3 separate regions of the Homo sapiens genome follow, and regions 2 and 3 are each linked to region 1. Evidence: fine-mapped expression QTL. A gene starts in region 1. Each other region holds a variant in brackets. All regions are shown on one strand. Distances are between the middles of the regions. Region 1 holds the start of ST6GALNAC3 (ST6 N-acetylgalactosaminide alpha-2,6-sialyltransferase 3). Region 2 overlaps LOC124904200. Region 3 overlaps ST6GALNAC3 (ST6 N-acetylgalactosaminide alpha-2,6-sialyltransferase 3).

The links. PIP is the estimated chance that this variant, and not a neighbour inherited with it, causes the effect.
Region 2: its variant is fine-mapped to the expression of ST6GALNAC3 in whole blood (TOPMed, PIP above 0.99).
Region 3: its variant is fine-mapped to the expression of ST6GALNAC3 in whole blood (TOPMed, PIP 0.93).

Annotation. Positions count from the first base shown.
Region 1 is chr1:76,070,361-76,078,641 of GRCh38, forward strand. ST6GALNAC3 (ST6 N-acetylgalactosaminide alpha-2,6-sialyltransferase 3) reads left to right here and starts at 4,386. Exons shown (of 5, transcript NM_152996.4): 1 at 4,386-4,524. The coding sequence starts at 4,507. RefSeq lists a silencer at 4,187-4,386.
Region 2 is chr1:76,049,564-76,057,844 of GRCh38, forward strand. LOC124904200 reads left to right here. Exons shown (of 5, transcript XR_007066173.1): 3 at 5,950-6,041; 4 at 6,546-6,650. Among named protein-coding and RNA genes, the nearest start is that of ST6GALNAC3, 21 kb to the right of the region's middle. RefSeq lists an enhancer at 3,188-3,688. The variant A/T (reference allele first, on the strand shown) is at 3,453.
Region 3 is chr1:76,098,244-76,106,243 of GRCh38, forward strand. All of the region lies in intron 1 of ST6GALNAC3 (ST6 N-acetylgalactosaminide alpha-2,6-sialyltransferase 3), which reads left to right. Among named protein-coding and RNA genes, the nearest start is that of ST6GALNAC3, 27 kb to the left of the region's middle. The variant T/C (reference allele first, on the strand shown) is at 3,163.

The DNA.
Region 1 (8,281 bases):
TGGGATTATAGACGTGAGACACAGTGCCCAGTCCATATTTACTTTTAATTGATTATGTTTTTTTTTTTAAAAAAAAACTTAGAGGAAAACTCTTTAAGAAAAACAAATCAGGCTAAAAACTACATTCTTCTAGGTAATGAAAAGTAGGCAAACAACATTAGTTTTGGATTTTTTAAAAATTAAAAACAGCTTTTCTTAATTGGTTCATTTGAAAAAAAATGGAAACTTCCAATAGGGAAAGGTAGAGCTGAGATGAAGTTAAGGGAGAATGTTACTGAATGGGAAAATATATAATATTTTAAAAATGCAATTTTAAATCATGCGTAACTTGTCTTGGAGTTCATCCCAGATAAGTATCAGTATAGTCAGGGATGTTGACGAATTCTGGATTAGAAGAACTGTGCAAAGGTTTGAAATAGCAGTAAGCTCAAGTCTTGGGAATGCAAACTGGATGACATTTTGGAATGTCCTACTATCGAAAAGGAGAGAAATGAAGCTTAACCCCATATGTCAGTGTATTCTCATAAACAGCTACCTAAAAGGGCATAGCCAAGATGCAGTTAAACATAGCTACAGACACACGTGTGGACCTGGACAGCTAGATGCCTGCTTTAGGATATGAAAAATTTCCTAGGTCACAATTATAACAGTGCAATGATTTCTAGAAAAAGAAGATCATTTCCTATCCTGGCTCAGAATGTTAAAAAAAATGACTTTCCCATAACATTTTCTAATGGATCTTCCAGTCACAGTCTCCTATGGAGGCATAATTTATGTAGTGGATGACAAAGAGTTTTATGATATCTGGAATTCATTTAAAATCTTTAGATTGGAAAAATTGAGATCCAATTAAAATCTTAATAAATGACTCTGTGTTGCATATAAATATATTAAATTAATATGTGTGCAGGCTGAAATTGGAAAAGTTATGAGAGTCAGCATGTTAATTCTATTTCTATCAGGGAACTAACTGTATGTTATAACTCTGAGAATTATTGGGTAATGGGGCTGTTTACAATGAGGCAAAACTGAATTTAAATAGCAAATATTCACCCATGACTTGTCATAACTCATGAAGTCTCCACCTTGAGGCATGGTGAAATCTCACTAGTGAAAGGCCTCTGAGGAGAGGGAAGGTGGACCAGGAAGCCAAGAAGAGCCCTAGGGAGGCTGATGTAGTGAAAGGGCCAGGTCCAAGGATCTCTCCATGAAAGGAAGCAAAGGCTGGCAGGCTGCTCTGTGGCACCCCCACGTAGTAGGTGAGATGCAGCAGTGAGAATCTTTGATTGGAAGTCATTCTCATGCACAGAAGGTGGTAACAGCTTGGTTGGTGAGAGACTGATGAGAAGTGCTGGGTCTTTGTTAAGGTATGACCCAGGGGCTGAGGGTTGAAAAATACAGGGTGAGTGTATGTATCCGGTACACTCAGATTGATAGAGTGTACCTATCCTCTGCATACTCACATATTTACCCTAGGTTTTGTATCCTAGTCTGTATCCCGGGGAGGATTCATACTTACCCTAAGTTTTCCTATGGCTACACTAAGACAACAGATGAAATGTGAAGAGTGACAAATGACAGAAATTGGGCTTCTAACATACTGGACAGCTGAATGTAGCAGTTAAGATGGCAAACCCACAAGTCCCTAGATTCAAACCCCTGTTCCCCTAGTTACCAGCTGGGGATGATAACATCCATGTGGATGTTGTGAGGATCAAATGAGATACTTTCTTTAATTGCAGGATGCTCCATTTTGTTATTATTATTTTTGGAAATAGAAACTCTTGGCTTTAAGTCACATAATGTTAGAGCTGGAAAATTATGCTACACCTATGGATTTGACTAAGCTGTTCCTGTAGTTTGGCCAGTTTTAAAACAAAAAAATCCTGGCAACACACTCCTATCCTCCCAGCCCCAACAAATCTGGCTATCTCCATTCCCTGGTAGGTTCAAAACCTGTTTTTATTTCCATCCAAAAGCTTCCCCCCCACCCCCAGACATCGAGTGGTCCATCTAAAACAGTGATTGTTAATACTGTTTTGTAAATCTTCCAGTCCAGATTTATTCTAGAACTTGAGTTTGTTTTTAGATTGTTATAAATGTGCCTTTATTTCTAGCTGTTTGACATAACTTTTGGATGTTAATAAAAAAAATAACACCTTGGGAAGTATGGACATGGGTGGATAGAAATGTAATTGAGAAAGCCATATCCAAGTAGATTGAGGGAATTAGTAAAGGCCTCATCACGGCATACCCAAGTCATAACATGTTAAAAGTTTGCTCCGTTGGTGTTCATCCTCCTGAGACACCCAAGGCTGATGGCAATTATCCTATTCATCTTCTCCCACAAGTCTGTCTTTAGCGGAAGATTTTTTTCTTTACATAAAGAGCTATCATATAAAAAGTGCTCATAGTGCCAGAAATTGAGGTAAATGCAATTTGCAAACATTATTATCTCATTTAATTCTCTTGAGGATAGATAATATTAGATAAGGTAAGGATTAAAGAGAGGTTAAGAAACTTGATCAAGGACACCCAGCAGGGAAGTACTTAGCAGGGCTGTTCACTAGGGCCTGCTGTTTCTCTTTCCAGATGTACAGACTTTCTAGAGAGAACGATGTGCTCTGCCCACCCTCACCCCTTTGCTCTGCTGTTCTGCCAGGGACATGCAGGAGACGGAGGCCTTCCTCTTAACCGCAAGAGGCCTTCCTTTTTTACTAATATTCCTCAGCACAGACCCTTTACGGGTGTCGGGCTGGGGGACGGTCAGGTGTTTCTCTTTCTCCTTCCTGAGATCTTTGCTTCCAATTTGGCTAAGGCCCTTTCCATGTTATAGTATCATGTATCTCTTATTCTTGTCTTTCTCACTTAACTGTGAGCCCACCTTGATGTTAGATATTCTGAAAGTCATTCTCCTATCCCTGAAAGGTCTTCAATAAAGATTTTTCCTCCACTTAGTGGAAGGTGAATAAAGTTTATTCTTCCATTTAGTAGTGGCTCAATAAAAAAGTTTGTGGAATCAATCAAGGGATGAGTAAATGAATGAAATACTGAATTTTCCTGGCCTATGAAGGACCATGAGCTAAAGCAGCGGTTTAAAGTATATAGTCCCAAACAAAGAATTCTTACTAAAAACACACCGGATCTGTAAGGCAGAGGAGGGAGGGGCGGGAGGAAGAAGTCGAAGAGCAGGGTGTGGTATTCCAGGGAGACTGAAGACAGGAGCTTCCCATGGGACAGGCAGTTCATCCACAGGCTCAGCTTCTGCAACCTCCTTCCTGTGGTTACTCCTGCTCTCTAAGAATTCTGCATGTTCTCATCAAGAAAATACCAAATTCCTTGAAAGCCTGGATTCTGCCTTGTGGTTTGTGAGCCAATCTCATGACACCACCAGCCCACAGTGCTTTTCCTGATTCCATGGAGGCAAACTAGACGGAGCTTCTAGCAAGTGAAACTTCTTTTGGGTAGATATTTGGGGGCCGCTTTTAAAATTTTTCTGACAGACCAAGTGGTAAAAATCTGTGTGTGTACACGGAATGCTCTCTCCCTTCTGCAATGCGTTTACTCTCCTTGTAGAAATAACTGCTTCTCTTAGCCGGCTCTTGCTTGGAGCAGGGAAGAGCAAAGTCCTATCATGTACACATACACAGTTTATAAACATATACTGTACAATCAACATGTACATATATAATACAATATACACATGTGTGCATCCTGTATCTGTATACTGTATATCATGCATATACAATTTCATAAACAAGCTTGTACCAGGAAAAGGCAATAATTTATATATTATACACACATACATGTATATGTAAAATATGTACACACACACAAAATATACCATACAGAGTGTAAGGTTCATGACGTCTTTCTTTCGTTGATATTTGTGCTCACTTATTAGCGGTAAATTATTAATTTTAGATAAGCCCATCACAGAGTGAAGGCTCAATCCTTGAACAGCCCAGGGAGAACTTCGTTGCTACTTTTGAAAAGCCCTTTGATGTGCCCAAAGTCTCCAGAAGGGCGATGCCAAACCCACTCAACTTTGACAAAGTGTGAAACGTCTGTAAAAAGGAGTTCTCTGATGTGTGAGAGGAGACGGAACCGAGAAGAAAAGGCCGTACTCTGCCCCCCGCGGGACCCAGGTCCCCGCCTGCTGCAGAGCGCACTCTGCGCACGTCGAGCCGCGAAAGGTTCACAGAAGAAAACAAGAGAAAGAAGTAGCAGGCACTGAGGAGCCGCCGGCGCCGGCGCCCAGGACGGCACGTGACCCGGGGGCGGGGCCGCGCGGGCCGCGGGCCAGTGGATGGGGACGGGGGCGGGGCCGCGGCTCGGGGGGCGGGGTCTGTGGCGGCGCAGCTTACACCGCGGTCCCCTTATTTGGATCTGCGGGAATGTGGGCTGGAGAGGTCCTGCCGTGGTACCAGCCTCCAGCCTGCCCCCAGGACTGCCCCTGACCCAGGCGCGCCCGCTGCTCGGTGGCAGGAGGGCCGGCGGAGCGCCATGGCCTGCATCCTGAAGGTAACGACTTGGATCTGTGGCTCGGACGCGTGGTTGGCCAGCCCCTTGCTGCTCAGAGGCACGGAGTCAGCCGCGGTCCCACCGCATCCTCATCTCAGTTGTCTTTTCCTGGCATTGATTTTCTTTTTGTTCCTTTGGCAAATGCATATGGAGGGAGATTCTGAAACATGCAGCTGGCACAGCTTCTTTTCCCACCATTCCTGCCTCCTGCTCGCGCCTGCATTGAAGGAGCTGCAGACTGTTGGCTCCAGGGGAGAGCAGGGCTGTGTGCCGAATAATGGGGATGGTAGGGAGAGGAGGGGTGTTCCCGCGGGTCCCGCGGCTCTGTGGAGCCTGAGGCCTTTCAGGGGCCACGGGGAGGGGTGGAGTGGCTAGGCGTGAGTTGCTGGTGGTGAGGGGCATAGCGCTTTAAATGGAGGGAAGAGTGAGCGGAGGTGGGCTCTACTGTGCATTTGATCATGTGAAGACAGAAACTTCTGAGTTTACAGGTAGTCCCTTAGGAATGAGTTTTCTATGAGATCTGCTAGCTCTGTTTGCCCTTAGCTCTACTTTGGAAAAGTTCACACGAGGATGTATATGTTAGTAGAGAACCTCTCACTCTCTTTATGCTCATAAATTTGAATAGACAAAATGATTTTATGCTCTGCCAGAGTGCGCTCAGCCATCCCTTCTTTGTTGAGTTTTCTTTCTCCAAGACCGGATTCTTAGCCTCACCTGAGCATCTTTCTGGGTTCACAGACTTGTGGCCTCAGGTGGGAGAACTTGGTGTGAGGGCCTCACTTAAAAAGAACTTTCCATCCCACTGGTAGAGGCCTCCCCTGCCCTCGTTTTTTTTTTTGCACTACCTTTCTACAAGAACATAACCTGGATGCATGAATCAAAAACATGAACAGCATGAAAGTTTCCTGGGCCTTGACTGGAGAATGCAGAGACCTAGTTGTCCAAGCCTGGGGGAACTGTGTGACGATGGAAAATACCAGGAAACAATTCGTTGTTGTTGTGTTATTGTGAAGTAGCATTTATTTCTCTATAAGATGATATTAAGTCATCTACTGTGTTCTGGTTACCTGAATCGTCTTCTAACGTGCCTGGTGTCAATGATGAAAATAAGAGACTAACCTCGTAGAAGTTGTTTCCCCTTCTTTGCGTAAAGGAGATCAGAAGTTTCCTGTGAGCTTTCTGAACTTCCTCTTTTTGTTTCAGAACATTTTCCAGGACATGAGGAAATAATACATCAGTATTACAGTATGGGGTATTTGACCGGGAGGCTCTTAGCACAAGGACTGAAATATGAATATGAGTCATCTTTACTATTCATTGTGTTATTTGCTGAAAGGGACATTGAGGAGCATGATATTTATTGCTGGCCATCTTTTTCTGTTTTGGTTTCTCCCCTGCCTTGTCCTATACATGTGGTAAACATCTTTAATGCACATCCCAAACTACACATGAATCTGGTCCAATCTTTCTCTTCTAGCACTTCACACTGCTTTCAGACATTTGGGACATATCTGTCCACCTTATCTTCCCTCCACTGAAACTAATGTGGGCTTTAGACTCAGAAAGATATGTCTGGATGCTGGCTCTGCCCACTGCTACCTCTGTGATGTTGGACAAGTTACTTAAATGTCTCTGGGCCTTAGTTTCTTCAATATAAGATCAAAGTAGTGGCACCTGCTTCACAAGGTTGCTGTGGGAATGAAATAAGATAGGGTATGAAAAATACTTTGTGGCACAGGCATTTAATATGTGCCATTTTTTTCCTCTAACATATAATAATAAGTGCAGTTTGGTTGATCCTTACTATATCCTCAGTCTGTTTCTTATAACTATTATTTTTTATAAAATACAAAATGTTTTTTATTCTTTAATCTTTACATAAAACCCTGAAAGATAAGTATCATTGTTTTAAACCCCATTTTACAGATGAGAAAGTTGACGCTCCCTAGTTTAAGAGATTTGCCCAAGGCCACACAGGGTTAATGACAGAGTGATCCTGGATTTAGACCCAGATATGTCAACCTTCCATATACTTTACTGCTGTTCCAGTACTTTCCCAGGTGATGACTTTTAAGATGGCCTAATACCATTCAGTTCCAACCACCTTTGAGCACCTTTGAGCAATCCCCTTCTCTGGTCATGGTCTAGACAGTCTGGGCTGGATCTTTTTTCTTTGTTGTCTTTGAAAAGCTACACATGGAGCAGTGCAGAATACAGGTTTCAGTCCAGAGACCTGAGTTCAGTGCAAGCCTGGCTTCTTGCATATGATTTTAGACAGCTGCTGCAACCTGGAGCCTCAGTTTTCCCTTGTTGAAGTGTTCATAGAATTATAACCATTGCGTTACAGGGTTTTTATGAGGATAAAACTATGGACTTTTTTTTTTTTAATGAAATATTTTCTGCCATTTGCTGACCCTGGACTTGGTGTTGGCATATGTAGAAAAGGAAAGATTTTCCTCTGCCCTCTTAGTTTCTGTGCCTGGTCCTGATAGCTAAACTGACAAAAGGCATATTAACAGAGGAAAAACATACACATTTTATTTGATGTTAATGTTTTTATGTGTACCACAGAGGGCTTCCTATATAAGAAATAAAGACCCGAAGAAGGGGAGAGGCCTGAGAGTTTATAAAGCATTTTAATAGAGAAGGATAAATTGTGGAAATGTGACAAGACAAAGGAAAAAGGGGGTTTGGGCTGGGGCAGTCGATTGTGAGAAAGTGGGAAATGTATGGGGAAAACTAATGGAAAATAGGTGAGTGTTTTTACTAGAGATTTATTTTGGTGTTGACTCTCCATCTTTGATCATAAGAATGTTCTCCTCTTCCTGGCACAGGGAAGGGACATTTCTCATGGGAAATTTTATGCCTTGCTTTTAGGTAGAAATGGGGAGGTCAGAAAGCCCTTCCTGTATCTGCTTTTTCTCAATTGCCTTTAGCTCAAAATAATCAATATGCCAAAGTGATATATTTTGGGGTAGCCTGTTCTGATTCCTTTTACATCACAAGATGCATAAACCATTGACCCCATTCTCAAATGGCTTATGGTTTAGTAAGGATGATAGAAAAGTAAATGAGTGCTTAGGTTACAATGTGAAGAATAAAACTACATAGGTCCATGGAGGGCATAGTAGAAGCATGGAAGGAGAGAGCAATTACCCCTGTCATTGGGTAGTTCAGACAGGCTTCCCACTGATGATATTGGAGTTGTGTTTTGAAGACTAAATAGGATTTACTATGACGGAGCTCGTGTTTTAGAAAGATAAGTTTTGAGGCAGTGCCAACTTTGTTCTGTGGGCTAAGACTTTAATCTTCTCAATGAATTTTGCAGTAGATTTTACTATCCATTTTTACAAATGAGAAAACTGAGATAGAGAGATATTGATTAAAGTATCATTATTGCCTACACAATAGTGACCCTCACTAAGAAGAGACCCCCATGCTGTGGCAGCTAATTTTGGTCTTTTAGGGGATATGGAACTATCCCCTCAAGGTGCTGTGCATGCTGAGGGCCCATTCTGCCAATGCATAGCGCTAGTTCTCGTAACAGAACGATGATCACTTCATAATCATTTAATTTAGGAATTCAGACTTCACATTGCCTGGACTTTAAAGCCAGAAATATGTGACTTTTAATTATGGCTCCACTCCTTATTGATTATAGAGCCATAACAAGTTTCTTGATTTCACTACCTCAGTTTCCAAAATGGGAATCATGCATTCCTCAATGGGTTATTCTAAAGGTTAAATGAGATAATCT
Region 2 (8,281 bases), 21 kb before region 1:
CTCAAGGTCGCTGAGTTAGTAAATGATAGGTCAGGGTCTTTTTTTTCTGTCTTTGCTCCCTTGGAGCGAACTCTCTCCCTGTTCTCCCTATGTGTCAGAGATGGCTCTGAACCCAGATCTGTGGGTTTCCAGAATGTAAGCTCATTACCCTACACCATTCTGCATTAACACATGAGATAGAAAAATGTGAGAACGATGAAGCATGATTTAAATAGACTCAACTAAAATGTAGATGAATCCGTGGATGATAAAATCTTCAGGAAGTTAATTTAAGAATGATACCATTTATTGTGCACTATTATGTCCAAGAAGTATTTACATTAGTTATCACTATTTTTTTTTGTTGTATGTGTGGTTTTTAAAAAAAATTTTTTAAATTATACTTTAAGTTCCGGGATACATGTGCAGAACGTGCAGGTTTATTACATAGGTATACACGTGCCATGGTGGTTTGCTGCACCCATCAACCCATCATCTACATTAGGTATTTCTTCTAATTCTATCCCTCCCCGCAAGCCCCCACCCACCGACAGACCCTGGTGTGTGATGTTCCTCTCCCTGTGTCCATGTGTTCTCATTGTTCAACTCCCACTTATAAGTGAGAATATGCGGTGTTTGGTTTTCTGTTTCTGTGTTAGTTTGCTGAGAATGATGGTTTCCAGCTTCATCCATGTCCCTCCAAAGGACATGAACTCATCCTTTTTAATGGCTGCATAGTATTCCATGGTGTGTATGTGCCACATTTTCTTAATCCAGTCTATCATTGATGGGCATTTTGGTTGGTTCCAAGTCTTTGCTATTGTGAGCAGTGCTGCAATAAACATAATGTGTGCATGTGTCTTTATAGCAGCATGATTTATAATCCTTTGGTTATATACCCAGTAATGGGATTGCTGGGTCAAATGGTATTTCTGGTTCTAGATTCTTGAGGAATTGTCATACTTCTACAATGGTTGAACTAATTTATACTTCCACCAACAGTGTAAAAGTGCTTCTATTTCTCCACATCCTCTCCAGCACCTGTTGTTTGCTGACTTTTTAATGATCGCCATTCTAACTGGCATGAGATGGTATCTCATTGTGGTTTTGATTTGCATTTCTCTAATGACCAGTGATGATGATCTTTTTTTCATATGTTTGTTGCCTGAATAAATGTCTTCTTTCGAGAAGTTTCTGTTCATATCCTTTGCCCACATTTTGATGGGGTTGTTGGTTTTTTTTTTTCTTGTAAACTTGTTTAAATTATTTGTAGATTCTGTATATTATCCCTTTGTCAGATGGATAGATTGCAAAAATTTTCTCCCATTCTGTAGGTTGCCTGTTCACTCTGATGATAGTTTCTTTTGCTGTGCAGGAGCTCTTTAGTTTAATTAGATCCCATTTGTGAATTTTGGCTTTTGTTGCCATTGCTTTTGGTGTTTTAGTCCTGAAGTCTTTGTGCATGTCCTGAATGGTATTGCTTAGGTTTTATTTAGGGTTTTTAGGTTTTAGGTCTTATGTTTAAGTCTTTAATCCATCTTGAGTTAATTTTTGTATAAGGTATAAGGAAGGGGTCCGGCTTCAGTTTTCTGCATATGGCTAGCCAGTTTTCCCAATACTATTTATTAAATAGGGACTCCTGTACCCATTGCTTGTTTTTGTCAGGTTTGTCAAAGATCAGATGGTTGTAGATGTGTGGTGTTATTTCTGAGGCCTCTATTCTGTTCCATCGGTCTATATAGCTGTTTTGGTTGCTATAGCCTTGTAGTATGGTTTGAAGTCAGGTAGCATAATGCCTCCAGCTTTGTTCTTTTTGGTTAGGATTGTCTTGGCTGTGCAGGCTCTTTTTTGGTTCCATATGAAGTTTAAAGTAGTTTTTTCTAATTCTTTGAAGAAAGTCAGTGCCCAAAGTAACTTACTGATTCAATGCTATCCCTATCAAGCTACCATTGTTATCACTAACTCTTACTGAAATCCTATAAGGTTGTCCCATCTACAGATGGAAAACTGTGGCTTAGTTTAGAAAGATTATCTTGCTGAAGACCATAGATCTAGAAAAAGTTTGGAGATTTAAAGCCAGGTGTGTTTGATTTAGGTTCTTTTCATGACACCACATGATCTTTGGAGGTTGAAGTCATAGAGAGCCACTTGCTATGACAGAGAGGAATCAACTAGAAGTTTACATATTCTCTTATTGGGTGCTTAGCATATGCCAGGCTTTGCGCCAAGCACCTAAGCTACAGCCATTGTGGACCAACAAATCTTTCCCTCAAAAACCTACTGTCTAGTCCTTCTGACACTGAAATCAAAGCTGCTTTTAGCCCACTGCCTATGAGAACATTTCTGACATATCTATTTATTTTGACTAAAAATGGTGCATAATCAGGCCATATTTCTGAAAATGTTAATTAGGAAAGCAATTTTCTGTTTTCATTAAGGACAAGTGTCTTGGGTGAGGAGAGGGAAGAATAAAAGTTAATATTTGGTGAAACACTGGGCCACACTAACCATCACATTAACCACGGGAAGAAAGTCAGCTTTGGGGTTTTAAGTGTTTAGAGGTCTCTTATTAAAAAAAAAAAAAGTTTATTTGAAGTTGCTATGGTTACATTTTATTCATAAAGGTAAAACAACTGAAAAAGTGGCCTAGAGAAATAATAATAAAGTCATGAGCCAACATTTGCCAAGTGCTCGCTGCATGCTCGGCACCACAACACATGCCTACATGTGTCATTTAATGTAATCCTCACGACAACCCCAGCAGATAGCCTTATAATTCTCATTTTACAGAGCAGAGTAAGGCACAGACAAGTACAGTTAACATGCCCAAGGTCCAACAGAAGAATGGGAATTTGAACCTAGGTAGTTTATGATCCAGGTTGATTAAATTCATTTAACAATTGCTCATTTGTCCCTTTATTTTGCTCATCTAAACACAGTATAGCACTCATTTCACTTAATTCAACAGAGAGTTTTGCTTCAAGCCTTCTAAAGTGTCATAATTACTCATTGTTATCACAAAACATGTATTTAGAACCAACCACATGCCAGGCCTCATACTAGCTGACCAATATACACAGTGTTTGGCAAAAGCTAAGGTAATGTTTATCTTTTAGGTTTGTGTTTTATGTAAGTCCCTACAATGTTATATCTTCTCATAATCTTTCTGCAGAAAATTACAAGCTGGCTGCAGAATAGCAATGAGTTATTCTTTTCTATTCTTTTGTGTAAGACATAATTCACGTTATGGAAAGGTCTGATTTCATAAACCTATGATTAGGTGAGGTAACATACAAACATGTAGATTCATTCAGGGTCTAGTTTTTACAGCTTTCTAAAGTCCATATGAGAACTCCAGTGTGTCTTCCTTTAAAAAATATATACCTTGTTTTTGGAAGATGATCTAGGGGGTAAGGTAAGATTGAGGTCACAGGAAACAAGGGTCCATGATAATTCAGTGCAAGGTGTTAGTT[A/T]TTGTGGTTGTTGGCAGTCAGAGAGTGGTTAAGTGATGACCGTTGCAGCATCCTTCCTCTGGCAGCAGCAGGAGCTGGGTGACGCTGAGCTGCCTGTTTCCAGGCCACTCACTGTGGCTTTGATGTGCTGTGTCTGCAACTCATTCCCCAGTTCTGTTCTCCAGCATTTCATTGTCAGCCACGGCCAGGGTACCCCGCCGCCTCTCACTTCCATCACACAGCCAGCCCCAGGCAGACTGTTTTTAAAAACATAAGCCAGTCTTGCTTCTCTGCAGATGGAATGTTTTACGTGAGAAATAATCCAGCTGAGTGTTTGCTCCACAGTTTGAATAAGAATGAACTGGCCAGTGGCTTAGTAGGGATTCAGGTCAGGAATGTGTTCTGCTGTCAGAAGGGGAAGTTAATGGTGGAAATTTGTAAACTGCTGTTGTTGGGTTGACATAATATGTATGGTCTAGTAGGATTAGAAGTTGATTCTAGAGTTAGACACAGGTTGAAGTCCTGGTGTTGCTTTTCAGTAGCCACCCCTTGTGAGCCTCAGTTTTCCTTCCATGAAACTGAGGAAAAACTTGATGCAAGAAGTGAAGAGAGAATGCAGGTACAGTGTTTAACATATTGCCCGACAAATGCTCAGTTAATGCTGTCTATTTTTTTTTTTTTTTTGGTCATTTTGGTCTTTATTTTATGGTAAAGGGAAAGCAACCCACTGTTTTTAAATCTTCCGCAAAAGCATGGTTACCAACGGCCTAGAAAATGACAAATAGTGTTAACTCCTTCATATCAATACCCTTTCCACTAATATTGTTTCAAGTGGAGCCAGTATGATTATGCTTTGATTTGCTAGCATGATTAAGCATATAACAGTGTAAGAGTCAACTAACTGATGACTTTATCAGGGAAGCCTCCATTCTTATTTTAAATTTCCTATCTTCTTTTTTTATTTTTTTGAGACAATATCTCACTCTGTCACCCAGACTGGAGTGTAGTGGCTGTCGTAGCTCACTGCAGCTTCAGCCTCCTGGGCTCAAGCATCCTCCCATCTCAGCCTCCCAAGTACCTGGTACTCAGGCATGCACCACCATGCCTGGCTAATTTTTAAAAAATTTCTTGTAGAGACAGGGTCTCACTATGTTTCCCAGGCTGGTCTCAAACTCCAGGGCTCAAGCAATCCTCTTGCCTTGACCTCCCAAAGTGCTGGGATGATAGGCATGAGCCACTGCACTTGGACTGTCTTTGTAATTTTATCAGATTTACTTTAAATGCTTTGTCGTTTTAGTGACAGAAACATGTGCATTCATGCTTATTTTACTCTCTTGGTGTAATTTTCTTATATACAGCCCCTCTTTAGCCCTAACAGTACTTTCTGATTAAGTTTTCTTTTGTCTGGAATTAATATTGAAGCATCAGTTTTCTTTTCTGTGCAATGGAATAAACTAGTGATACACATAACATGGATGAATCTCAAAAAACATTAAGCAGAGTGAAGGAAGCCAGACACAAAGATTACATGCAGTCTAAAAGCATTTTTTAAAAGACTCTTGAAAAAATAAATCTAATTTATAGTGACAGAAAGCAGAGCAGTGGTTACTTGGGGCCAAGGGTGGGGTGGGGAAATTGACTGGGGAAGGAATAAAGGAAACCTTTCGTGGTGACAGAAATGTTCTGTATCTTGATTGTGGTGGTAGTTACAAGAGTGCGATCAAACAGTGTTCTTAAAATGGCTGTACTTTATTGTATATAAAGCATGTTGCAGTAAAGTTAAATAACAAAATTCTGATCGGATGGTTTCTGTCTTTTTTACAACATGGGTTTATTTAGCCTTAATTATTAACAACAGTTGCATACTCAAAGATTTCTAGATTGATAGCTATTTTCCCTCAACATTTAAAATACATTATTCTATTATCTACCTATTATTGCTGAGAAGACTGTCAGTTCCATTGTTACCGTGTCTTATTTTCTTCTCCCCGGAGCTTTGTTTACTTCTTGTTTTGGATGTTGTGCATTTTCAGTAAGATGTGTCTTGTTGTGTATTTGTATTTTTATTTATTTTGCTTAAATTTTGCTATGATTTATTACTAAATATAATGACTTCTTTCTTTAATTGTGGAAAGCTTTCAGACACTCTCTTTGGATATTGGTTCTCCAATCTCTCCATTCCTTCCTTTAGGAATTCCTATTAGATGTATGAATTAGACTCTTATTTTAACCTTTTAGTATCTTAATATCCCTTAGATATTTCATGTTTTTAATATCTCTTTTATTTGTGCTGCACTTGTGCTAAAATAATTTCCCTAGGTCTATCTTACATTTCATTAATTCTTTGTCACCTGTGTTGGGATTTCTATTTCAATGAGTATACTTTTTGTCACTATGATTTCAATTTCATCCTTTTCAAGCATGCCTATGTGTTTTTTAATATTTTCTACCTTTAGCTCTTTGGACATGTTAATCATGTTTATTTCTAAATCTCTTTCATTTTCTTCCATTATTCCAGGTGATGGTGTGCCAGTTCTGCTCTCTGCTGTATCTGTGTCCTGTTTCCTTATGTCGTTTGTAATTTTTGATCACAAGCACATTTTCAACAAGGTTTGTTTACCATGGGACCCCCATGAGGCCTGAACTACAGAAGTGGTTTGGGGTTTGCCTCTGCCAGGTCCCTGGAGGTTTCATTGGCCTTAGATTAATTTTTATGTTAAACTTCTGTGGTAAATTGTGTTTCTGGAGAAGACCACAACAATAGACCCTCTCCCAATAGCTCTTTTGTAATGTGATCTTGCCACTCCTCCATCAAGAGGTGGAGTTTATGATCCCTTCCCCTGATTCTGAGCTGCCTGTGACTGACTTTGATTGACAGAATGTGGCAGAAATGACACTGCATCACTTCCAAGACTGGCCTTATGAGACTCCCAACTTTTGCTTTCACTACTTGGAGAGCTCCCTTTTGGAGGCCAGTCATCGTGTTAGAAGCATAACTAACTGGAGACCACTATGTGGTGGAGAAGCTCATGCTGTCTACATATAGAGGGAAATGGCATATCAATGAATTAAACATGAAAGTGAAGATTTCTTGGCCCTCTCCATCTTACTCAGCTCATTGGAGCCACCAGCTGAAAGCAAGGGAGTGAATGAGCCCAGCCCCGAGTGGAGCAGAAGGAGCCCAACCAGCGAAGCCCAGCCTGAATTCCTGACTAACAGGTGATGAGCAAGTAGTTTGAATCCACCACCTAGCCTTGAGATTCCGATTCTTGCAGTCGATCCTTTTCCACTCATTGTGTAGGCAGTTGGGAACATGTCTTCTCATTTCATTACTCTAGTGGGGGAAACTTTTCAAGTGTTTCACTGGGGCCCTTTCCAGTCAGATTAGTTTACTGCAATGACTAGAAATGCATCTTCACTCATGATGGCCCAGGTTAATTCTTGACCCCTCTGGCACAACTGTCTCTCATCATCATAAAGAAGCATAACATATATAACTATTCCCTCTCTTATGCCACCCCTCTCCTCACAAACATGTAGTGGTTTCCAATTTTCTATGAAATAAAACTCTTGTTTTTCAGTTCCAGATATTTTTATCTAATGAAAGGCCCACATTTCTTATTTATGTATCTATTTATTTATTTATAAGAGATGGGATCTCACTATGTTGCCCATCTGGTCTTGAACTCTTGGCCTCCAGTGATCCTCCCACCTTGGCCTCCTAAAATGTTGGAATTATAGGTGTGAGCCATCGCATCCAACAAAATCCCCACTTTTCTTATCTCACTGGTCTACATATCTGTTTCTCAGTCAACCTGAACTATCTCTTCTTACTCTATGTACCCCACTCCATATCCTGTCTCCATAATTTTACTCTCATTATTCTCTTTGCATGAGATACCCAAAGCTCTGGTGTTCACATGTAGATAGATCTAACCTATCTTTCAAACCCCACTAAATCACCTCCTCCACTATAAAGCCTTTTTTGGTAACCCAAGCTATAATGTCTCCCTCCTTTGAAGCCCAGTAATATTTTTTACCTGTCAATGTCTTATGATTTCTACCTTCTCAGATTTTTAAAGCATAGTGGTTTAGAATAGAAGTTGACAAATTACAGTCCAAATTACTGACCAAATCCAGCCCACTATCTGTTTAGGAGAAATAAAGTTTTATTGGAACACAGTCACGCTCATTCATTAAGATACTGTCTATGGTTACTTTTGCACTACAATGGCAGAGTTGATTCTTCGTAAGGGAGACCAGCAAAGCTTAAAATATTTGTTGTCTGGCCTTTTACAGAAAAAAGATTGCTGATCCTTGATTTAGAGCATGAAAATTGGATTTTGTATTACACCTTAATATATATATATATATATATATATATATTTTATTTTACTGTAAGTTCTGGGATACATGTGCAGAATGTGCGGGTTTGTTACATAGGTATACATGTGCCATGGTGGTTTGCTGCAACTATCAACCCGTCATCCAGGTTTTAAGTTCTGCATGTATGTATTTGTCCTGATGCTCTCCCTCCCCTTGCTTCCCACCCTGCGACAGGCCCCAGTGTGTGATGTTCCCCTCCCTGTGTCCATGTGTTCTCGTTGTTCAACTCCCACTTATGAGTGAGAACATGCAGTGTTTGGTTTTCTGTTCCTGTGTTAGTTTGCTGAGAACGATGGCTTCCAGCTTCATCCGTGTCCCTGCAAAGGACATGAACTCATTGTTTTTTATGGCTGCATAGTATTCCACGGTGTATATGTGCCACATTTTCTTTATCCAGTCTAACATTGATGGGCATTTGGGTTGGTTCCAAGTCTTTGCTATTGTAAATAGTGCTGCAATTAACA
Region 3 (8,000 bases), 28 kb after region 1:
GCAGAAAGACATAGAAAGGCATAGTAACACAGTAGGGTGCATTAGACTGCACGATCACAATGCTTTTTTTTCTTCCCTATTCTAAATCTTTCACAATTTTTCCTGATGGTAGATATTACCAACCTGTTTTCCAAAATTAGTGTATCAAATTACTCTTCCACCAGAAGTATCACAGAAGTTCCTTTTGCTTCTGGACAACAATTGGTTTAAACTTTTGCCATTCTGTTAGGTAGGCAGTGGTATCTCTTTGTGGTTTTAATTTGCATTTCCTTGATTAAGAATGAGGTTGAACACCTTTTAGATATTTATTGGCTATTTGAATATCTTCTTGTGTGAACTGCCTGTATTAGTCTTTTCCCCATTTAAAAAAATGGGTTCTCTTTTACCTTTTAGGGGGGTAGGAGTGTTTTATATATATTTTATGCATTAATATATATTTTCCAATCATATGTGTTGCAAATATCTTCTTCCACATTTTAGCTTGTCTTTTCATTCCTTTACTGGTGTCTTTTATGAACAAAACAATTATACTACAGCCTATTTTCTTAATTTTTTATTTTACAATTAATAATTGTTAAAATCCCTCCTTAAGAAGTCTTTCACTAGTTTGATTTCTTGAAAATATTTTAGCATATTAATGTCTAGAAACTACATTATTTTGCCTTTCAAATTTAGATTTAAAATCTATTTCGATTTTATTTTTCTGTATGATGTAAAATAGGGCATCATTTTTTACCCCAATATGGTATCCAATTTTCCTGGCATCTTTCATTGAAAAGACTGTGCTTTCGCTACTGCTTGGCAGAGACACCGAAATGTTCATATGTTTGAGTCTTTTTCTGGATATGTTGCTAAATTCTAGTGATCCATTGATCTATTTGTTCATTTTAATACCAATGTCACACTGTAGTTTTTTATGATAAGTTTTATGATAAGTCTTTATTTCTGATAGAGCCAAACCTCCCACCTTGCTGTTTCTCTTTAAGGTGATCCTGGCCCTTTATACTTCCTTTGAGTTTTAGAATTAGCTCATAAAATTCCACAAAAATTGTGGATCTTATTTACTGAGTTTTTATTTAAGACTGCATTGAATCCTTAAAAATTCCACTTCTAGGTATTTATCCAAGTGAAATGAAAACGTATGTCCACAAAAGAGTGGTACATGCATATATTCATAGCCCCTTTATTCGTAATTGCTCCAAACTGGAAACAACCAGTATGTTTATAAAATGTAAAACTACTAAGCAATGAGAAGGAATGCACTGTCGATACATGCAACAATGTAGATGAATCTCCAAAACATTACATTAAGCAAAAGAAGCCAGACATGAAAGAGTACGTAATACGTGATTCTATCTATATGACGTTTATAAAAGCCCCAACTCTACAGTGATATAAATCAATCAGTGGTTGACTGAAGTCAGGGATGAAGTGGGCAGATTAGTGGGAAGAGCTTTACAGGGGCATGTGGGTATCAACTGGGGTGATGATTACAGAGATCACTAAACCACATCCTAAAAATGTATATATTTTATTGTAAATAAATAATACTTTATTAAGTTTTCTTTTAAAGACTCCATTAACTCCATAGATTCGTTTAGGAAGGACTAACATTTTTACAAATTGAGTCTTCCAACCTAGGAATATGTTATATAGCTCCAAGTACTATTGCATTTCAATTCTCACATTAATATTCTTTTGCTTTTATGTAGAAATTTTTCATATTTTTCAAAGAAATATCCACTTATTTTGAGGTATTGTTAAGTATTTATGATACAATGGAAATTAAAAAATTAAATTTAATTTTGTTTATAGCTGGTTTATAAACATGTAGTTAGTTTTTATTTACTGAAAATTATATCCAGCAATCTTGCTATATTGACTTATTAATTTTATCTGTAGATTCTTTGGATTTCTACATCCACAATCATATCATTTGCTAAAAATGGCACTTTTGCTTCTTCTTTTCTAGTTGTGTTATCTTTTATATCTTTTTTTACCTGATTGTACTGACTCCAAAAATTAATACGATGTTGATATCAAAGAGAAAGTTGTCAATATTTTATCACTGTGTTAGGTTTGCAGTAGTGTTTTTATAGATATATTTTAAAGGAATTTCCCTTCTATTCCTCCTTTGCTAAGAAGTTTTATTCATTAATGGATGTTGAATTTTATCAAAGCTAATCTTGCATCTATTAAAATTATTATATGTATTTTCTGCTTAATTCTGCTAATGTAATGAATATTTGTAAAATGTTGAACAACCACGCATTTCTGGAAGCAACCCAATTGGGTCAAGATGGATTAACATTTTTATATGATGTTATATTTAGTTTGCTAATAATTTGTTTAAGCTTTTTGCCTCTATGTTCATTAATGAATTAGACCTGAAATTTTCCTTTCTCATAAAGTCCATGTCAGGTTTTGGTTATCGAGGTTATGCTTAAAGTGAGTTAGGAAATGTATTCTCTTATTGTTTGGAGGTATTTGAGTATGATCAGTATTGTTTTTTCTTTAAAGTTCTGGTAGAATTATCTGGGGAAGTCATCAGAATCTGTTTTTTTTTTTTTCCTTTGTGGGAAGTTTTAAAATTATGCATTAAAATTTTTTAATGGACATTTTTTTAATGCCAGTTTTAGATTCACAACAAAATTGAGCAGAAGGTACAGAGATAACCCATATAACCCTTGCCCCATCCGTGCACAGCCTTCCCTGTGACCAAGATCCCCCATCAGGGTGCTATATTTGTTACAATTGATGATCCTAAATTGACACATCATTATCACCCAAAGTCCATAGTTTATACTAGGATTCACTCTTGGTGTTGTACATCCTATGAGTTTTGGACAAATATATCCACCATTGTGTCACGCAGAATAGTGGTACTGCCCTAAAAACACTCTGTGCCTGCCTATCCATCCCTCCCTTCTACCGTAACCCCTGGAAACCACTGACCTTTCTTTCTGTCTCTATAGTTTTGCCTTTTCCGGAAGGTCATATAGTTGGAATCATAGAGTATGTAGCCTTTTCACATTGGCTTCTTTCACTTACTAATATGCATTTAAGTTTCCTCCATGTCTTTTCACAGCTTGATAGCTCATTTGTTTTTAGCACTGAACAATATTTCATTTTCTAGGTGTACCAGAATTTGCTTATCCATTC[T/C]CCTACTGAAGGCCAGCTTGGTTGCTCCAAGTTTTGGCACTTATAAGTACAGTTTCTGTATTCGTAAACACAGAATAAACACCTATATGAAGATTTGTGTGGTAAGAGTGTTTTCAACACTTCCTCATGTTGATCTTTTATATTGTATGCTTGTTTTCACTTCAGTCACGTCTGCTCTTTATCCATTTCCTTTCTTCTACTTTCTTTTGTTTAAATTGACTGATTTTAAAAAATGATTTCTTGAAGTGGTTAGTAGATTCTCAAATTTTGTCGTAATGTATTTACACAATAGGGTTCCCCTTAAGTACTGTTTTTGCTGTTTTAGATGAAATCATTTTATTATCATTCAGTTAAGAGCAGTTTCTAATTTCTACCAGGGATTTTCTAGCCATCTTTTCATTATTGATTTTTGGCTTCATTGCATTGTGAGGAAAGAACACGCTTTGAATGATTTCAGTGCTTGAAATGTGTTGAGATGTGTTTGATTTCATAACATCTGGCATATTTTTATACGTGTTTGCTATGTGCTTGAAAATAAAGTATATCCTCTATTTGTTGAGTGCAATGTTCTATATGTTTATTTGGCCAATTTTGCTGTTTATGTTCTTCAGATTTTCTGCATTCTCACTGATTTCTTTTGTCTTTTTTTGTTTTATATGTTTCTGAGAGAGATATGTTAAAATTCCATAATATGACTGTAGACTTGTCTTTTTCTCAATTACAAAGGATCTTCCATATACCTAGTAAGACTTTCTGCCTTACAGTCTATCTTATCTGATATTAATAAAACCACACCAGCTTTCTTTCAGTTAGTATTTGCCTGGTGTGTTTGTGTGTGTGTGTGTGTGTGTGTGTGTGTGTGCCTATTTGAATACTTTTAGCTCCTGCATTTCTATAGCATTATTTTTAGATGTGTCTCTTGTATACAGCATATGGTTGAGTTGGACAGAATTTGTCTTTTAATTGCAGCATTGAGTTTTCCTACTTTTAATGTAATAATACACGGGTGGGTTGAAATTTATTATTTTATTAATTTGCTATCTTTCTTTTAGTCCTGCTTGTTCCTTGTTCCAGTTTCTCCTCTTTTTCTCCCTTCTGTTGAATTGAGGATTTGTTGTTGTTGCTTTTAACCATTCCACTTTTTATTTGTCTATTACCTTGGAAGTTGTATATTCTTTTATTATTATTTTGGTGCTTACACTAGAGATTATAGTATGCATCTTGACTCAGGTCTTAGACCACTTTAATGGCATTTATCACTCTCTTGACTTCTGTGTCATTGTTATGTATTTTACTTCTATACCTTTCAGATGCCCAAGACATTATTATTATTATTGCTTTATTCAGTCATAATTCATTTTGATTAATCATATATTTATTCTTTTCTTTGTTCTTCATTTTATTTTCTTGTATTATTTATCTTTCATCTGGGAGCACTCTCTTTTTGCCTGAAGAACATCATTCACTATTTCCTTTATTGTAGGTCTGTTGGTAACAAATTCTTTTGTTTTTTGTTTGAAGTGCTTTATTTTACTATCACTCTTAGGGATATTTCCTCTGGGCATAAAATTCTAGGCTATCTGTTATGTTCTTTCAATACTTAAAAGATATTTTATTTACTTCTGGCTTTCTTTATTTCTGTTGATAAGTTAGATAAAAATCCAATTTTTGTTTCTTTTTCACCCTTATGCTGATTTTTAGTTTTTTTTTTTTTTTCTTTGTGGTTTTAGCAGTTTTATTGTAATTGGCCTGGGTGAAGTTTTCTTTTTACATTTCCTGCTTGGGGTTTCTAGGATTCTTTGTCTTGGCTCCTTCTGAGGCCTGATATCTTTCTTCAGTTTTGGAAAGTTCTCAGGCATCATTCATCTTGTCAAATATTGCTTTTCCCCATTCAGTCTCTTCTTTTCCATTTCCATGGGCTATAGTTACATATGTGTTATACCTCCTCACTGTATCCTGTAGTGTCTTATCCTGTATTTTCCATCCTTTTGTCTTTCTATACTTTATTCTAGTTATTTTCTTCTGGCTTCTAATTCCTGCTTCTGCTGTGTCTGTTCTTCCTTTATTAAGTTATTAATTTTAGTTAATGTATTTTTAGGCCTAAAATTTTCATTCGACTCTCTCTGTTTCTGAGTTTCTCATTTTTATGAGTTCCATAGGATGGCGTAGCAAATTACTAGAGACTGGGTAGCCTAGACAACAGAAATGTATTCTCTCACTGTTCAGGAGGCTGGAGGTCAAGGTATCAGCAGCCACACTCCCTCCAAAGGCTCTAGGGAAGAATCCACCCCTTGCCTCTTTTAGTTTCTAGTGGCTGTTGGCCTTCCTTTGCTTGTAGCTATCTCTCTGTCCCTCCATTTCACATGGCCTTCTCCTCTCTGTGTCTGTCTTAAAATTTCTTCTGCCAATCTCTTATAAGAATACATGTGATTGCATTCAGGGTTCATCTTGATAATTTAAGGTAAGTCCTCCTCTCAGCACCCTTAATTCAGTCACATCTTTTTCCATATAATGTATTATTTGCTCCTTTGCTACATAAGGTAATATTCACAAGTCTCAGAGATTAAAATGTGGACATATCTTTTTTGGGGCCACCTTTTAGCCTGCTATACCATTGTACGTTGAAATTCTCAACTTTATAATTTTCTCTTTCTATAAATAGGAAGACTTTTTACAAAAAGTCTGTTTCAGATAATTCTAGTATCTGGAGGCTTGTGGGTGGGTTTCTATTTCTGTTATTTCTGCTGGTTTTGTTTATGTCTTCTTATCTCCTTATGTGCTTGGTTATTTTTAATTGTGTGTGAGACAGTATATTCGTACAATTTTTTACAGATATAATTTGAGGTCAAGATTGAGGTTTCTCAACCCCAGAAGGGATTTACATTTGCTTCTGCAAGCACTTGGGGCATTAGAATTCTGGAAGCATCTGATTTTAGTTTCAGATATTGAGATGGCTTGAAGATGATCCATAGACCTCTGCAAGGGCCTCTTAGTTCTCTATTCTCCCTTCCTGCTAGGACACAGCTCTTTGAGGAGCCCAGTCCAAAACAAATGATACACCTGGTCAGTTCCCCCATCCTTAGCAGGACTTAAACACAAATCTTTATTTCCTTGGCTCCTCAATATGTCGTTAGGGGAGAAATAGGCCCAGAATGCCAGCTTCTTTTGTCCAGACTTCTTCCTTCCCTTGATCCTGGCCTGACGCTTTTTTTTTTTTTTTTAGATTTGAGGTGTTTTAAAGCATTTAATAAATGCTTTTTCTCTCTTTTACTTATCTTCAATGGGAAGGTGTATTAGTCTGTTTTCACACTACTGATAAAGACATACCTGAGACTGGGCAATTTACAAAAGAAAAAGGTTTATTGGACTTACAGTTCCACAGGGCTGGGGAGGCCTTACAATCGTGGTGGAAGGTGAAAGGCATGCCTCACCTGCGGCAGACAAGAGAAGAGAGCTTGGGCAGGCAAAGTCCCCTTTTTAAAACCATCAGATCTTGTGAGACTTATTCACTATCATGAAAACAACACGGGAAAGACCTACCTCCATGATTCAGTTACCTCCCACTGGGTCCCTCCCACAACACGTGGGAATTCAAGATGAGATTTGGTGGGGAAACAGCCAAATCATATCAAAAGTTTTATCTGGCATATCTAGTGAGTCATTATCAGAAGCAGTAGTCTCTCTGAAGCTTTTCTCATCTATCCACCTTACATTTTTATGATTAAAAATTCCAAAAATTACAGAAGTGGAGGGAATAGTCCAAATATTCCCCCATCACTCAAATGCAACTCTTATCAAGATTTTGTCACAATTTGCATGGAAATATTCACAACCTATAAGAAGAGAAAGTTTTAAAGCAAGGCAATATCTCAACTCACAGCCATCCACTTACCTCTAATGGCCAGCATCAGAGACAAAGACTTCTGCCTTGGTTACTGCTGTCCTGAGCTTCTAGCACAGGTGTGCCCCTAGATGATTTCAGTGAGCTATTGTTAAATGAATGTGAATTCACTGAAGAACCACAGACTGTGGGAGCTGGAGGAAGTCTTGGCTTGTCGTAATGAACCACAGATTACAGATGGAGATGCTGACATCCTGAGATTAGGTCACAGAGGTGCATGGGAGAGTTAGGCCAAGGTCTCAACTCAGGGCTCTCTCCACTTTTCCACACTTCCTCCTCATTTTGCTAGCTCATTTAATTACCACTTTTTCTTCCTTTCTGATAACACTGAAGTTTAAGAGCATTTCATTACAAGTGTGATGATACAATGTGGTATTAAGACATGACAAGGCAAGTTTTATTGGCCATTACTATTTGCCTCAAGTGAGTGGCAAAGCCTTTGACCACTCGAGGCATATATTAATAGCCCTATAAAATACATCCTGGATTGCTAGTGCTATTACCGTCTGGCTATTACATTTAAAAAAATATTGTACAAATACCACTTCAAATAATTTTCTTACTCTTTTTTTTAAACTGGAACGATTAGCTTTTTTTATGAGAGACAATTCTTCACATGATGGAGAAAATAGAATTGTCAGGTAACATGGAAAGAGTATAAGCTTTGGAGTCGTACCAAACTGTGTGCAGGTATTTGCTCTGCTATTTATCATCACTGTGACATTAGGCACTTTTCTTAAACTCTCTGGGTCTATTTTCTTCTCTGTCAAATGACAACAAGAATGCTTGTCTTTTAGAATTCATATGTATATGAAAACACCTGGCATAGGGCCTTGAACATAATGAGTGGTCAATAAATCTTATATTTTTGTTGTTGTTATTATTGTCATGATAATGAAATCCAATGGGAAATTTTTTCTTTTAATTAGTTGATTTA